3 linked regions of the Homo sapiens genome follow. The protein of the gene in region 2 purifies or fractionates together with the protein of the main gene of each other region. This does not show direct contact. Each region holds a gene or a part of one and is shown on either strand. Other genes may lie near its edges.

Evidence for each region.
Region 1: the proteins of ABCG8 (region 2) and PTPRD purify together in Homo sapiens (affinity purification with mass spectrometry; 2 studies listed by BioGRID and IntAct, with this or other methods). This does not show direct contact.
Region 3: the proteins of ABCG8 (region 2) and NOTCH3 purify together in Homo sapiens (affinity purification with mass spectrometry; 2 studies listed by BioGRID and IntAct, with this or other methods). This does not show direct contact.

The regions. Positions count from the first base shown.
Region 1 is NC_000009.12:8,516,892-8,520,543, reverse strand, and holds part of PTPRD (receptor-type tyrosine-protein phosphatase delta isoform 1 precursor), read left to right. Parts: intron 1-2,114; coding exon 2,115-2,696; intron 2,697-3,652.
Region 2 is NC_000002.12:43,845,432-43,849,083, forward strand, and holds part of ABCG8 (ATP-binding cassette sub-family G member 8), read left to right. Parts: intron 1-723; coding exon 724-880; intron 881-3,652. UniProt on the Homo sapiens protein: ABCG5 and ABCG8 form an obligate heterodimer that mediates Mg(2+)- and ATP-dependent sterol transport across the cell membrane.
Region 3 is NC_000019.10:15,183,924-15,187,575, reverse strand, and holds part of NOTCH3 (neurogenic locus notch homolog protein 3 precursor), read left to right. Parts: intron 1-237; coding exon 238-471; intron 472-587; coding exon 588-698; intron 699-1,896; coding exon 1,897-2,089; intron 2,090-2,167; coding exon 2,168-2,319; intron 2,320-2,556; coding exon 2,557-2,670; intron 2,671-3,125; coding exon 3,126-3,281; intron 3,282-3,652. UniProt on the Homo sapiens protein: Functions as a receptor for membrane-bound ligands Jagged1, Jagged2 and Delta1 to regulate cell-fate determination.

The sequences.
Region 1 (3,652 bases), on a different chromosome or scaffold from region 2:
TTTCTGCAGATGGCTAGAACTATTGCAAAATGAACACAAATTATCTTCTTTTCCTAGGCAATGTTGTAGGCATTTGGAATTCAGCAGCAAGTAAGAAGTACAAGTTTGCTACTCTTGAAAAGCTGCCATTCTAGGGGGTGATCTTAGAAAATGCAATACACGTTATAATTGGTATCGCATCTCTAACCAAGCGTATATATCAAATATATGCTATATAAAACTAATGACATGAGAACAAAGGTACACATTGTCAACATTTACAATCGTGAAATAATGTTATATTGTGTAACCTTAATATAATAAGCACACATGTATTTATCCGTACATTACAGACATAAAACCTGTACTGTACAATAAATGTGACTTAGTGAAACTAATAATGTCAGCTAAATATCAGTGAGCACAGCTTTAATTAGCAATATTTGTATTTGCTTTGAAAGTTCAGAAAGACATGTAGGGGAAATCTGGAGCACACACAGCCTTGAAAAATGCCAGGTCAGAATATTTAAACAAATTTCATTTTATTATTATTTTCAGTAAATTCCCTTGACAAAATACTATCATTCTGTAGTTCTTTGAGTAGTGTGTAAATATTGAATCACCTTTTTTATAATTACCATTTCAGCTTTAAATATTTGAAGGCTTGCTGAAGACCTTTAAGAATTCAAAAGCAGGGGCCACTTTAAACTAATATTTTGTTCACCTTCTCATCTTTGTTTTCCTGACTCTTGCCACTTCCCTGTCTTTTCCACCTCAAAAATAAACAAATAAAACATAAGAGTGAATCTTAATGGCAAATTAAAATAAATCAAAACAAAAGAACAGGTTGAAGAGAATGAGGTGAATGGGTGCTGACTCATTTATTCAGTTAACTGTTTAACGATTCTCATTAAAAACCTACCGAGTGCCAGGCAGCATTCTAGGCATTCACAATTTTACAGTAAGTCAGAAGTACAAGTTTGCTGCTCTTGAAAAGCTGCCATTCTAGGGGGTGTTATACTTCTTGCCTTTATGTTGGCAAGGAAACAGGGACACTAATGGGCTGATTATATGAATGTTACCCTTTGAGATTTCTCTAAAGAGTCAACTATTAGAATGCCCCTTCCTACCCTAATAGCACTGCGTTTCAGAATCATTGTTTAGAATAAGGCACTTGAATATGAGGTCAGCAAAGCAGACAGTTTATATTTTTAATTAGTAGTATTTTGATTTGTATTCTTCTGCTAAAAAGAAAGAATTAGACCTCTAAAAAGATGGATTTTATTGCAAATATTTGTCATGTAGCTACATTGGATATTTCTGATGTGGAATATAGAATGCATATTAATATGACCATAACATACCTTAAAAAGTGATTGGTGAATGTGCCTTAATTTACTTCCTTCAGCAATTTTTAAATATTAAGAATAAAGCATTGATTTGAAATTTCTATTCTTTTGCACCTTAAAATTTTTGGTTTTTCATTTACAAGAAAATTTTTAGTAATGGTATTGTGTCTTACCAGAATATAGATGTTATTGTTTCATCGCAATTTAATTTCATTTCAATGTATTCCACATTTTGTTCTTTTCAATGTTTATCGGTATTTCAGTTATACCATTTATTTATTGGGGCAAGGGGCTAATTGGCCAAGCTTTTGGTATAATAATAGTAATAACTGCAGCTAATACTAAGGTTTTTTTGTGGGTTCCAGTTACATTCTAAGAATCTTAGTGGATTGGCTCATTAGTCTTCACAGCAAACCCATGAAATACAGTTACATACAGCTGTATAATATGACTTAAATAATAATATTTTTCCCATTTCCACATGAGGAAACTAAAGCAAAGAGAGGTTAAGAAATGCGTGCAGGATCACTTAGCTAATAAGTAGAGGATTTGGATACAAGCCTAAAAATATGCTATCAAGCCCTTCTAGGAAAGCAGGATTTGTGTCACCTATGAATGTTTTCCTGTCCTTCTTGGCCATTCAGAAAACTACTCTTTGCTATAATTTCATTTAATTAAATCTTCAGTAGATACATAATCCTGTCATTTTCATAGTAGAGTTTATAGATTTTTGAAATATTATAGGGATGATGGGTAGTCATTGTCTTTTATCTTCCCCCATCCAAGCCTTACCCAAACCTCCAGGAACTCCTGTAGTGACCGAGAGCACAGCTACAAGCATCACACTGACGTGGGACTCTGGGAACCCTGAGCCTGTTTCTTATTACATAATTCAGCATAAACCTAAAAACTCTGAGGAACTTTACAAAGAAATTGATGGGGTGGCGACCACACGCTACAGTGTCGCTGGACTAAGTCCCTACTCGGATTATGAATTCAGGGTTGTTGCTGTCAATAACATTGGGCGGGGGCCTCCCAGCGAACCTGTGCTAACACAAACCTCAGAGCAAGCACCATCCAGTGCCCCGAGGGATGTCCAGGCACGAATGTTGAGTTCGACCACCATTTTGGTACAGTGGAAGGAACCTGAAGAGCCAAATGGACAGATCCAAGGATATAGAGTTTATTATACAATGGATCCCACTCAACATGTCAACAACTGGATGAAACACAATGTAGCTGACAGCCAAATCACTACTATTGGCAACTTAGTGCCCCAGAAAACATATTCTGTCAAAGTCCTGGCTTTTACCTCAATTGGAGATGGTCCCCTTTCAAGTGACATACAAGTCATCACTCAGACAGGAGGTAAGTTTGGTTGAGGAGGGAAATAGGGCAGGAGGGAAGGGCTGGTGCAAAGAGGTGAGAAGGACAAAAACAAAGAAGGAACAAAGATGGTATGAATTTTAATTTTTGAGATTTAGGGCTTCAAAGCAACAGATGATAGATATCTGAAAAGGAACAAGCATGGACATCTGAAAAACTAATCATTTTGAGCAGAACAATGCATTAACACCCCTTCTTTTTAATTTGTATGGGAATGACTTGAAGACTTCTCTATGTGAGATAGAACAATGTCTCCCCCATGCCCAGTTTTGAGAATAGAAAAACGACACTTCTTTGTAATAGCTAGTATGGTAGAGTGGTCTCAAAAGAGTATTTAATTTGTGTAAGATTGGATGGTTCAAGACAAAGCTAAAAAATAAAACTGTTACAGGGCCTTGGGTATTTAAATGGCTTATATTTGCCAGAAGCTACTGGCTTGAAAATAAGTATTCTCTGAGTGGCTTTAATTTCTGTTTTTCTCTGTATGGCCTCAGTGGATAAAGAGAGACAGTTACCGAGATCTCAGATAGAACATTGGGCCTGATTGATTAACTTTGCTAAGAGCTACAGCAGACATTAGACTATTTTATGAAGGAAAACTTGGCCCTCCCAGTGGTTTTATTTTTCTAAGAGGTTATCAAACCTCTTTGGTCTTTGAGTCAAGGTGATCAGTTTGGCTTTGGGCTAATATAAAATAACAGGCCTCTTCTAAAGTTTATTCTTGAGCCACGCACAGTGGCTCACGCCTGTAATCCCAACACTTTTGGGAGGTAGGTGGATCACTTGAGGGTCAGGACTTTGAGACCAGCCTGGCCAATGGCAAAACCTCATCTCTATTAAAAATACAAAAATTAGCTGGGCATGGTAGCAGGCACCTGTAATTCCTGCTACTCAGGAGGCTGAGGCAGGAGAATCACTTGAACCTGGGAGATGGAGTT
Region 2 (3,652 bases):
TCTGAGCATATCTATGTTATAGATTTGCAGTGAGGATTGAATAAGGTGATGGATGTTAAGTGATTAACACAATGTCTTGCACATAGTAAACATCTGATAAATTATTAGTAAATTACTAGTATCAAGTGAAGACATTTTGCTTCGTGTTTTATTTTTATTTCTGTACCACTATTGCACATGATTTTCTTTTTTCCTTACTTTTTTTTTTGAGATGGAGTCTCATTCTGTCACCCAGGCTGGGATGCAGTGGTGCAATCTTGGCTGACTGCAATCTCTGCCTCCCAAATTCAAGTGATTCTCCTGCCTCAGCCTCCCAAGTAGCTGGGATTACAGGCAACCACCACCATGCCTGGCTAATTTTTGTATTTTTAGTAGAGGCGGGGTTTTACCATGTTGGCCAGGCTGGTCTCAAACTCCTGACCTCAGGTGATCCACCTGCCTCAGCCTTCCAAAGTGCTGAGATTACAGGCATGAGCCACCATGCCTGGCCTGTACATGCTTTTCATTCTTCTTATCTTCAGACCTAGAAACAGCAGCTACAGGTTCTCAGCATGGGTCCTGCTTCCGTGTTTGGTAGAACCTGGGTTGGGGCCTATTGTGTGTAGGTGAGGACATATCCTCTGTGGAGAGGGGCCACCTGGGGAACGAAGATGCTGAACAGAAGTTGCTGAAGCCCTCTGAACCATTCAGCTCTCTAAGGAACCTTCTGATATCTCCCCACAGGTGGACCTGGCCTCTCAGGTCCCTTGGTTTGAGCAGCTGGCTCAGTTCAAGATGCCCTGGACATCTCCCAGCTGCCAGAATTCTTGTGAGCTGGGCATCCAGAACCTAAGCTTCAAAGTGAGAAGTGGGCAGATGCTGGCCATCATAGGGAGCTCAGGTACCGGAAAGGCAAATCGCTGGGCAATGGTTTCTCTCCTGGGATACAGAATGGTCCTTTGGACAAATGGATGCTTCTTATGGAGCTCTTTGCTGACTAGTAGAATAATACAGCAGAATGGCTGAGAACACAGGTTCTGGGTCAGACAGACCTGGGCTCAAATCCTGGCTCCTCCATTTGCTGGCTTGAGGGTAGGTGCTGTTGTTAAGAGTCATGAGTGCGCCTCTTGTCCACCCGAGGCTGTGGCCAGAGCATCTGACTTTGGCTAACACCTGGACGGAGAGATCAGCAAACAGCTCCAGCATGTAATGTTCTTTTCAGACTCCTCCAGCCATGAGGGGCATTGGTTCAGGTTGTTCCTCCACAATCACATTCTGATTATGGCCAGACAGCCCCTGCCACACTCTCACCTCTCAGACAGCCTCTCCAGTGTCTTACTTAGCACAACTTTCACTCATCTGCAAAGAGCCAGGTTCTTGGAGTGCCTCAAATTGTCATTTCCATGGCCAAATTTAAAATGAGAGAATGTCTGAGCTGAAAGGGGGCTTGGGGAACAGAGGTCATTCTCATCATGTTCCACCTTTCTTTCTCCCTACCAGTTTGGAAGCATTTTCAGAGGAAGGTGTTCAAACTCCCTACTCCTCAGTGTGTCTAGAGTATCCTCCTGCACGCGCGCGTGCACACACACACACACACACACACACACACACACACTCCCCTCCATTTGACAGATGAGGAGACTCAAATCCAAAGAAATTGAGGGATTCTCGTAAGGACACATATTTAATGCAGAGCTAGAACTAGAACTTTGGTTTCATCATTCTCGGATCAAGACATTTCTCCCTGGGACACCCTTACATAGTGCTGGAGAGAGCATTTTATATCTTTTAATTAATCATTTCCAGAGGTAGAGATTACTCAATTTTTTAAACATTCTGCTCCAAACTTTTACACCCGTCTGGTAGATAAGTTCTGTTTACCGTATAACCAAAGATCAAATGAAATCTTATGTATAAATGCACTTTGTAACTGAAACAGCATCACAGTCATGAAGTCCCTCTCACTCTGTCCCTGTCCCTGCAATCCTGACCTAAATAAGAAAAAAGTAGATCCCGGCCAGGCACAGTGGCTCATACCTGTAATCCTAGCACTTTGGGAGGCCGAGGCGGGCAGATCACGAGGTCAGGAGATCGAGACCGTCCTGGCTATCACGGTGAAACCCCGTCTCTACTAAAAATACAAAAAATTAGCTGGGTGTCGTGGTGGGTGCCTGTAGTCCCAGCTACTTGGGAGGTTGAGGCAGGAGAATGGCGTGAACCTGGGAGGTGGAGCTTGCAGTGAGTCGAGATCGCGCCACTGCACTCCAGCCTGGGCAACAGAGCACGATCCCGTCTCTTAGAAAGGAATGAATAAATTACACTGAATAGTCTCCTGTTTTGTTTTTTTTGTTGTTGTTGTTTTGTTTTTTTGAGGCAGTCTCTCTCTGTTGCCTAGGCTGGATTGCAGTGGTGTGATCTCGGCTCACTGCAACCCGCTCCTCCTGGGTTCAAGCGAGTCTCATGTCTCAGCCTCCCAAGTAGCTGGGATTACAGGTGGGTGCCACTATGCCTGGCTCATTTTTTTTTGTATTTTTTGTAGAGATATGGTTTTGCCATGGTGGCCAGGCTGATCTCCAACTCCTGGCCTCAGGTGATCTGCTTGCCTTGGCCTCTCAAAGTGCTGGGATTACAGGCATGAGTCACTGCACCGAGCATCTCCTGGTTGTTTATAGATTCAGTGTTGTTTGGCTTCAGGTTTACTTGCCTGTGTAAAAAAAACAAAAACAAAAAACAAAACAACAACAAACAACTTTAGACAAATAAATAGTAGAGTTGTCTGAGCAAATAGTGATTAATGAATCTGGCAGCACTCAAAAACAGGACCAGTTCAGAGGCTCCCCCAAGCAATTTGGTCAGGCAGTATTTATAGACAGAAAAAGGAAGTGCCCTACAGAAATAGCTGATTGGTTACAGTTGGGTGTTCACCTTATTTATTTGAGGGTGATGTGATCAGGTGTTGGGTATGGACAGGAGCTCATCAGTCGGTAGCCTGTGATTGGCTGATGCTTGGCTGCCATGATTGGCTGAGACTCAGCAACTTGTCTCAGCCAGTCTCTGTCTTAAGAGAATATACTGCTAAGATAAGTTGCAGTTTGTTTACATACTAAGTTTGCTTGCAGTTTGCTCTGTGGGAACTCAAAGTATGCAGGCAGCCTCAGGCCAAATTTAGTTTAACTGAGCAGCTGAAATTATTAAAATGATTTATTAGAAAGGTTCATCAACTACACTTCCTGTGACTTTTACTGCCATCCCCCTCTCCCCCTGCCCAACATACACACAAAAGAACGCTGGCCATAATTTTTAAAATACAAAGAAAACAGCCAGGCTGGGCACGGTGGCTCATGCCTGTAATCCCAGCACTTTGGGAGGCTGAGGCAAGTGGATCACCTGAGGTCAGGAGTTCGAGACCAGCCTGGCCAACATGGTGAAACCCTGTCTCTACTAAAAAAAAAATACAAAAAATTAGCTGGGCGTGGTGGCACGTGCCTGTAATCCCAGCTACTTGGGAGGCTGATGTGGGAGAATCGCTTGAACCCTGGAGGTGGAGGTTGCAGTGAGCTGAGATTGCACCATTGCACTCCAGCCTGGGCAGCAAGAGCAAAACACTGTCTAAAAAAAAAAAAAAAAAAAAAAAAAGGAAAAGAAAAGAAAGCAGCCCTAGGCATTTTAGTTT
Region 3 (3,652 bases), on a different chromosome or scaffold from region 2:
CACAGCTGGGGGCGGGATTTAACTGTGGGAGAGTCTTGGCTAGGGACAAATTCTGGAGCTTGTAGTGGGGTGGAGTGGAAGTAAGTGGGGGGTGGGGGGTGGGGCCTGTATTGAGCTCGCCTCCTGACAGCTTGATGGGCAGGGCCTCAGATAGAGCTGAACCAGGATTGGTCCGAGGCCTCACTTGTGGGCAGGCCCCTGGCAAGTGGGCGGAGCCTGACCCTCTTGGCCCCACAGGCTTTGAGGGCACGCTGTGTGATCGCAACGTGGACGACTGCTCCCCTGACCCATGCCACCATGGTCGCTGCGTGGATGGCATCGCCAGCTTCTCATGTGCCTGTGCTCCTGGCTACACGGGCACACGCTGCGAGAGCCAGGTGGACGAATGCCGCAGCCAGCCCTGCCGCCATGGCGGCAAATGCCTAGACCTGGTGGACAAGTACCTCTGCCGCTGCCCTTCTGGGACCACAGGTGGGACCGGGGGCTGGGGCAGAAACAGCACACCTGGAGGGGCACAGAGGGTTTGGGAATGGTGCATCTAGTGGGGCACAGTGGTGGCCACTCCATGCCATGTTCCTGGCCCCTAGGTGTGAACTGCGAAGTGAACATTGACGACTGTGCCAGCAACCCCTGCACCTTTGGAGTCTGCCGTGATGGCATCAACCGCTACGACTGTGTCTGCCAACCTGGCTTCACAGGTGGGCAAGTGGCTGCCATGAGAGGGGGTCCTTAGATCGAGGGTGAAGTCACTCGTCTCTGTGGGCCTGTTTTGCCCGTATCTTTGCAGACTCTTGTCCAACGAGGTTGTCCGTGCTTTGCCCTGAGTCTGTGCTGTCTCATTGGCATAAGGTTGTTTCGAGATTATTCTGCAGGCTGGGCGCGGTGGCTCACGCCTGTAATCCCAGCGCTCTGGGAGGCCAAGGCAAGTGGATCACTTGAGGTCAGGAGTTCGAGACCAGCGTGGCCAACGTTGCGAAGCCCCATCTCTACTAAAAATACAAAAATTAGTCGGGTGTGGTGGTGGGCGCCTGTAGTCCTAGCTACTCGGGAGGCTGAGGCAGGAGAATTGCTTGACCTCAGGAGGCGGAGGCGGCAGTGAGCCAAGATTGTGCCACTGTACTCCAGTCTGGGCGACAGAGTGAGACTTCATTTCAAACACACACACACACACACACACACACACACACACACACACATACAAAAACAAACAAAAAGATTATTCTGGAACATAGATGAAAGTGTCCAAACTCAGTGACTAGGTTATTTCTGAATGGGTCTAAACTAATCCTTAGTGGAAATGAATGTGACTTTGCTAGGTGTGTTGGCTCATGTCTGTAATCCCCCAGCACTTTGGGAGGCTGAGACATGAGGATCACTTGAGCCCAGGAGTTCGAGACTAGCCTGGGCAACATAATGAAACCCTGTCTCTACAAAAAATAAACACACTCCCAAAGCCAGATTAGTCAATACGTAGATAAACACGCACACACATGCACACACAATTAGCCAGACGTGGTGGTGCGCAACTGTAGTCCCAGCCACTCGGGAGGCTGAGGTGGGAGAATCGCTTGAGCCCAGGAAGTGGAGGCTGTGGTGAGCTATGATCATGCCACTGCAGTCCAGCCCGGGCGACAGAGTGAGACCCCATCTCAAAAAATAAGAAGAAGAAGAAAAGAAAAAGAAAGGGACTTCATGGAAGTTTGGGGACCAGAATGATCTGGGGCAAGTCAGCTCTTGGTTGAGGAGGCGGGTGTCCTAATCTGCACAAGAGCTGATGCGTTATGAAAAAGAGGTCATTGCTCGGGGGTGTGGGTGTGCTAAGTGGGGTCACGTCGTCCCTCCCTGGTTGTCCCTGCTGACTTTGTTCTGAGATGAGATTGCTTGTGTACTCCCCAGGGCCCCTTTGTAACGTGGAGATCAATGAGTGTGCTTCCAGCCCATGCGGCGAGGGAGGTTCCTGTGTGGATGGGGAAAATGGCTTCCGCTGCCTCTGCCCGCCTGGCTCCTTGCCCCCACTCTGCCTCCCCCCGAGCCATCCCTGTGCCCATGAGCCCTGCAGTCACGGCATCTGCTATGATGCACCTGGCGGGTGAGGGCCCTTCTCAGCCTCAGACACTGCCCCCTCTCCCTGGCCCACCTCCCTGGCCTGACTACCTTCCCCTGCCAGGTTCCGCTGTGTGTGTGAGCCTGGCTGGAGTGGCCCCCGCTGCAGCCAGAGCCTGGCCCGAGACGCCTGTGAGTCCCAGCCGTGCAGGGCCGGTGGGACATGCAGCAGCGATGGAATGGGTTTCCACTGCACCTGCCCGCCTGGTGTCCAGGGTGTGTACCTCACCTTCCCTCTGCAGCCCCACCAACACCATGGGCCTTCTCATCTCTCTTCTCCTCTACTCTCTCCTCCCGCTATGTTAGCTTCTTTTTTGCTTTCAATCATTTCCCTCCAGGAGCTTGGGAGGTGGGTATCAAGGTGGGGACCCTGGGGTTGGGGGAGGTGGGGGGAGATGGGATCAGGGAGTCCCTCAAGGCTATCTCTGCTTCCCTCTCTTCCACCCCCAACAGGACGTCAGTGTGAACTCCTCTCCCCCTGCACCCCGAACCCCTGTGAGCATGGGGGCCGCTGCGAGTCTGCCCCTGGCCAGCTGCCTGTCTGCTCCTGCCCCCAGGGCTGGCAAGGTATGCCACCTGCTTCTCTTCCCTCCTCCTCTCCATCTCCTCTGCCCCCTACCCTATCAGGGATGATGCTGGGGATCCAGAGAGGGACCCATCCCCAGCCCTGCCTTTGAGAGGGGCTTCCTTCTTGGAAGGACAGAGCTGGACACTGATATGCAGCCTGTGTGGGTCAGCCCTTGGAAGAGGAAGAGTTATGGGGCTAGAGATGCTGGGACTTAGGGCGGGGTTTAGGGTACAGCTTCCTGGAGGAGCAGACCTCATAGTAGGTATTTGCCACCTACTGAGACAGGGAGACGGCCATTCTGAAACTGCATATGCAAAATGCCCAGACACGAATGACAGCACGGCTTATTTTGCCTTCACCCATCTCGGCCTGCAGGTTCTTCCTGAGCCCCAGGTCCCTGAGACCCTGCTCTGTACCCTGTAACCCTAGGTGTAACCTTGCTCCCTACCCCCAGGCCCACGATGCCAGCAGGATGTGGACGAGTGTGCTGGCCCCGCACCCTGTGGCCCTCATGGTATCTGCACCAACCTGGCAGGGAGTTTCAGCTGCACCTGCCATGGAGGGTACACTGGCCCTTCCTGCGATCAGGACATCAATGACTGTGACCCCAGTGAGTGCAGGGGAGCTCTTGGGGGTGCTGCTCTGGGGAACACAGTCATTAAGCTTGAACTGTGTGCCTGGCACTGTGCTGTCATTTCATCTTCACAGTTATCTTACTTTTCCCGTTTTATTTATATGGAAACTGAGGCCCGAGGAGGTTGAGTGACTTCTTGTGCAAGCCCATGGAACGAGTTAGGGAATGAGCTGGGCTTAGAACCTTGGAGTCTGTGTGCTGCCTCTTTTTTTTTTTTTTTTTTTTTTTTTTTTGAGACAGAGTCTTAGCTCTGTCGCTGGAGTGCAGTGTTGCAATCATCGCTCACTGCAACCTCTGCCTTCTGGGCTCAAGCACCTCAGCCTCCCCAGTGGCTGCGACTATAGGCG